2 separate regions of the Homo sapiens genome follow, and region 2 is linked to region 1. Evidence: fine-mapped expression QTL. Tissue or cell type: sun-exposed skin. Region 1 holds a variant in brackets; the other region holds the start of a gene. All regions are shown on one strand. Distances are between the middles of the regions.

Region 1 (2,915 bases):
CAAAGCCAGCCATCCCTAGGTTAGGCCAGGTAATAACCTTAAAAAGCAAAAGGAGAGGCTAATAGTCATTCTAGTCCCCACGTGGGAAAGAGTGGAGAGGCTGGCTCTGCATGAACCTTCCTATATAGGGGATCACCTTTGCCTCTCAACCATGGCGCACCCAGCCTGACCTGGTGCCCACCCTCCTGCCAGCCCTGAACTACAGAAAGGTGGAGGAACAGCCCTTGCAGCCCAGGGTAGACCCCAGAAGCAGAAGGACTGTGTGTCCCAGTCTCTCCAGCGAGGTGCTGCCTTGGTCTCTCGGGTCACGGTATCATGCGGCTCGAAGACTGATTAGTTTAATCGGGGTGTTGTGTAACTGTTGGGAATCGTGTGCTCTCAGGATCACCAGGTGGACGTGGTTGTCACGCTGAGGTGAGGGGCCAGCGGCAGTGGCTGGGGTGGACGCAGCTGGTGCCACGCACAGGGCCCGTGGCTGCGGTTTTGTCGAGGTCAGAGGTCACCGCTCTGGGGCTCCACGTTGCGGGTCTCCCGGGGCTGACCCCGGGACAGTTTGGGGAAGCGGGAAGCTGCTTTGGGCCGGCTGTTCACAGGCTCTCCGGGCGGGGTGATGTCGCTGAAAGAGCAGGGAGAGAATCGGGTTAAGTCTGGGGATGAAAAGCAAATGACCACAGGCCAGGAAGGGGAGCCAGGTGTGAGGGCAGGAGGGATCTGATTGGCAACTGTGACTGGCTCATTGGATCTGCCTCTAACTGGTGCCACCTGAAGAAATGAGAAACCCCTATTGTCACGTAAACCTTTCCATTTTTTTTTTTTTAACAGCACTCCGAGGCTCCAACCAAGCTTGGCTGTGAGTCTGAGCTAGCTCATGGTACCACCGTTCCGGTCTACATTTTAAGGCTATGAAAGAATGTTCTAGGCACAGCTTTCTTCCCCACATTTTCCTTGATTTTCCAGCAAAGGTACGCTTCTAAGTCCAAGGCAACTTTGGAGAACACTACATAAAGCCACACAAGATGCGTAGCAAAACACAGGAGACGGACTTCCTGTGGAATTAATCCTAAGAAAATAATCAGGCCCTAGGCTAGGGGCTAGTTAAAAGGTTGTTTGGCATGGTATTGTGTTTAAGAGCCAGGAACAGTGGAAGATAACACCAAGAGGGGGACACTGATCCTGGTTCTGAAGCAACGCGAACACACAGCGTGTGTGGGTCCCAGGGCATGGGTCTGGGTTGTGTGGGAGGCCCTCGGCACATTTTTTAGGGGATAGGGTAGAGGCTGGGAGGCTTCACCGTGAGAGCAGAGGGTGCTCAGCAGGAAGTCCTGTGATGTGGTTGCATTTTTTCAAAATTGTATTTTCTGGAGACAGTCTCGACTCTTGCCCAGGTTTTACAGTGCAATCGTGTAATGATAACTTGCTGCAGCCTCGATCTCCTGGGCTCAAGTGATCCTCTCACCTCAGCCTCCTGAGCAGCTGGGACTATAGGTACTAGCCACCATAC[C/T]TGAGTGTAATTTTTTGTAGAGATGGGGTCTTGCTCTTGTCCAGGCTGGTCTCAAGTGATCCTCTTGCTCAGCCTCCTAAAGTGCTGGGATTACAGGTGTGAGCCACTGTGCCTGGCCAATCCTTAATCACATCTGTAAAGTCCCTTTTGCTAGATAAGGGGACACATAAATTCTGGGGCTAGGAATGTTCTTACTCTGCCTACTATACGCTATTTGAATAGGAAGTAAATACCTCACTGGGATAAAATGTTTTAAAACAAGGCAAAAACCTAACAGGATCCATGTCCACTCCTGCGTCCGCAGCACCTCTGTGCTGCTGTGGCTTGCTGGATGTAAGTCCTGGATCCACTGGACCCTACAAGGGAAGACAGGACTGTGTCCACAGCTAGCTCTGCCTTATCTGTGGTTTAGAAAGGACCAAAGATGCCAAGTGAGAATGTCAGATCAGGAACATCCACCCCCAGCTGTATCCAAGCCCAGTTTCACAAATCATGTGAGTTAAGAGACTTGCATTCATAAAGAAATCATTCCCCTCGAGGATCCCTGCAGGGTTCCCTGAAACAGCCTAGCATCTTCATGTATCTCAGGAGTGAATCTCTTCACAATGATCTACTTTGCGTTGCACCTTTCCAGGGACATGGCCACTGTGCGAGTGAGATCCCTCGTTTCAAGTTTGACACCCTGATAAGCTAACAAAATGAAGACCCCTTTTAATGATTGTCTTTTCCTGTAAGTCAAGTTGTTGCTTTGCCTTCTGTGCATGGATGAAAAAGAAACATTTGACCTTGAACAAAGCCGGAGCTGCTCTGAATCATCTCTGAGCCCAACCAGCCTGGCGTGTGCTGTGCTTTCCTCCTTTAGGTGGGTGTCTGGCTGCAGGCCCAAAGCAAACATGATCCTCTCTTCAAAGGATGGGGGACCCCACTTACGAAGAGCCTCTTTATCCCTGAATGCTCCTTAGAGGATGGTTCAAAGATGCTGGAAGGAGGTCTTTGCTTGCAGTGTAGGGGAACTGATTCTTAGATACAGGAAGGCTTGGATGTAAAAGTCAGTTTAAAGCCATGCCCTCACAACCCCCTCCTGTCATGCTCTTCAGATGCGGGGTCTGAGCAGCCACTTAGCCTGCAACCACCATCATCATTCAGCACAGCCAGGATGAGCCCTGCCCTGCAATGACCAGAGCTTGGGGGGAGAGGCCCTGGAGGTAACAGGCTCTGAGAGTGCCTGGGAGAGGCCAGTGCCTTGTTGGTTGGGAGAGGAGAGGTAGCAGTCGGTGGGGTGACTGTTATGAAGGGGTAGGGAGAGGACATAGCTTGGAGGCACGTGTCTCTGTCCAGTCCTGCTGTGGGCAGTGCTGTCTGACCCTTGGTTTCCTTGTCTGTCATTTGGGGATGACAACCATAAGCATATCCT
Region 2 (2,915 bases), 43 kb before region 1:
ATACTGATTCTTGTAAAATGTAGTAATTAAGAATTATTACAAATCCTTGTAGCAGAGCATGTCTCTCATCAAGATGTTTTGTTTTTTGATGCAGTCTTGCTCTGTTGTCCAGATTGGAGTACAATGGTGCAGTCTCAGCTCATTGCAACCTCTACCTCCCGGGTTCAAGCAATTCTCCTGCCTTAGCCTCCCAAGTAGCTGGGCGCACAGGCACGTGCCACCACCCCTGGCTAATTTTTGTATTTTTTAGTACAGACTGTTTGACCATGTTGTGTAGGCTAGTCTCAAACGCATGACCTCAAGTGATCCCCCCCACCTCAGCCTCACAAAGTGCTGGGATTACAGGCGTGAATCACCATGCCCGGCCCCTCATGATCTTTTTTATTCTCTATAAACAAGCATTGTACCTAGAGTGGATGCATTCCCCTTTCTTTTGGGAATGCCCTACTCTATGGCTAACAGTACTTAGGCTACTTCCTTAATAAACATACTTTTGCTTTGCACTGTGGACTTGCCCCTGAATTCTTTTGTGCACGAGATCCAAGAAGCCTCTCTTGGGGGTCTGGATCAGGACCCCTTGCCTGTAACATTGTTACCTCCCTTTTCGACCAAAGCAGCCTCATTTTTTTTATTGCATTGTGGTGTGGAGCCCCAAAACTAGTTGGCATCTCTGGACCCCTAAAGATCTAGGTAACACTTGGTGAATTTTTAAAATCTCCCTTTTCATGGGTTTTTAGAAATTCAAAGTACTCTCCAAGATTTTCCCAAATCCCAGGTGCTTCTACCATTATTGTTACATGAAAGGGTTCCTGATGCAGTCCCGAGAGAGATGGTTCTTGGATCTCCTGCAAGAAAGAAAGAAAGCACAAGTCTGTAAAGTGAAAGCAAGGTGATTAAGAAAATCAAGGAATAAAGAATGGCTACTCAATAGACAGAGCAGCCCTGAGGGCTGCTGGTTGCCTTTTTTTATGGCTATTTCTTGACATGCTAAACAAGGGGTGGATTATTCATACCTCCCCTCTTTAGACCATATAGGGTAACTTCCAGATGTTGCCATGGCATTTGTAAGCTGTCATGGCAGTGGTGGGAGTGTAGCAGTGAGGACGGTCAGAGGCCACTTTAAGCACCATCTTGGTTTTGGTGGGTTTTGGCCGGCTTCTTTACTGCAACCTGTTTTATCAGCAAACAGGTCGGCACAAGATACAGCTATCTCATCCTGTGACTAAGTGTCTTAAGCGTCTGGGAATGCAGCCCAATAGTTTCAGCCTCATTTTATCCAGCTCCTACCCAAGATGGAGTTGCTCTGGTTCAAATCCCTCTGACACCATTATGACATCTTCTCTAATTTTCATGCTTGTGTGAAATTATTTGGGCTGAAGTGGTCAGACAGCTTGGGCTACCTTGTCACCATATTGTGCTAGGTGGAGGCTACTGCCTCTAGAAGACTGTCTATTGTGCCTTGAATACACAGCATTGACTTTGCAGGGTCATCTTGCTGGATAACATAGCACCACCCAAACAGGAGAATTGAGGCTGAGACTGGATCAGGCCCAGTGGAACATAGCGAAATGAGAATAAGCTTTCGTGTTAGAATCCTGCCTATGTGATCTCCAGCAACTTAACATCTCTGAGCCACTTCATTTATCTGGAGAATGGGGCTAAATCTTCCTGAGTTTTTGAGGCTTACAGCGAATAATGTACGGCACCTGACATGCAGTAAACAAGAAATCAAAGGTAAATACCATTATTCAGTCTTCAGCACAGAATTTGTTCATTTTCTTACCATACCGCCCTTCCTCCCCCACTTTATAAAGAACAGAGACAGATCTCATTTTTTCAGATCTAACAGGTACCCCCATCCCCATGACTGGCTTTCAATAGATTGATCATAGTGTGCAGAGGTCAGCAAACTTTGGCCCACCTGTTTAGTAAATAAAGGTGAGTTGGAACACAGCCTTGTCCACGCATCAGTTGAATAGTTGGCAATGGGAATCTCATGATCTGCACCTAAAAATATTTGGCCCTTTACAGAAATACTTGGCCATCCCCTGGCTTATAGCCGGTTGTGTTTTGTTTCCCTGTGTCTCTTTCCCACCCCAGCTGGGATTCAGGCTAGCCTGTTTGTCTAATCAGATCTGAGGAAAGTGCATTCAGTTGATGAAATCGGCTAACAAGGGTTCATTGCTACGGGCTCATTGTGTTTGGAGATGGGGAATGTGCGTGGGTTGGTCAGAGCCTTAACCCACAGCCCTGCTCCCAGGAAGCTTTCTGACCACTTCTGTGGATAAACAAGGCACGCATAGCTGGGCACAGTAGCTCACACAACACCTGCACTTTGGGAGGCCGAGGCAAGAGGATGGCTTCAGCTCAGGAGTTTGATACCATCCTGGGAAACAAGGCAAAACCCTGTCTCCACTAAAAACACAAAAATTAATGGGGTGTGGCAATATGTGCCTGTAATCCCAACTACTTGGGAGGCTGAGGGAGGATGGCTTGAGCCCAGGAGGTAGGGGCTGGAGTGTACTATGATTGTGCCGTTGCACTGCAGCCTGTGTAACAGAGCAAGAACCTGTCTCAAAAATACAAACAAAATATAAAAAAGCCATGTGAGCCACAGGCCAGAACTTTAACCCAAACTTGTATACGGATTAGCTTCAACCTTTTAATCTATCTGGGCCTCAGTTCCCCCATCCATTAAATGGCAATAATTTTAAGTTTTACGGTACATGTGCATAACATGCAGGTTTGTTACATAAATACACATGTGCCATGTTGCTGTGCTGTACCCATTAACTTGCTTAACATTAGGTGTATCTCCTAATGTTATGCCTCCCCCTCCCTCCACCCCACAACAGGCCCCAGTGTGTGATGTTCCCCTTCCTGTGTCCATGTGTTCTCATTGTTCAACTCCCACC

Evidence for each region. PIP is the estimated chance that this variant, and not a neighbour inherited with it, causes the effect.
Region 2: SNX29-AS3 starts here. The variant in region 1 is the best candidate, but not a certain one, in a credible set for the expression of SNX29-AS3 in sun-exposed skin (GTEx, PIP 0.74).

What each region holds. Positions count from the first base shown.
Region 1 is chr16:12,566,207-12,569,121 of GRCh38, reverse strand. It overlaps SNX29 (sorting nexin 29), which reads right to left. Exons shown (of 21, transcript NM_032167.5): 21 at 1-616. The coding sequence ends at 493. It overlaps SNX29-AS3 (SNX29 antisense RNA 3), which reads left to right. Exons shown (of 4, transcript XR_007064988.1): 2 at 823-962. Among named protein-coding and RNA genes, the nearest start is that of SNX29-AS3, 43 kb to the left of the region's middle. The variant C/T (reference allele first, on the strand shown) is at 1,502.
Region 2 is chr16:12,609,557-12,612,471 of GRCh38, reverse strand. It overlaps SNX29-AS3 (SNX29 antisense RNA 3), which reads left to right and starts at 1,330. Exons shown (of 4, transcript XR_007064988.1): 1 at 1,330-1,734.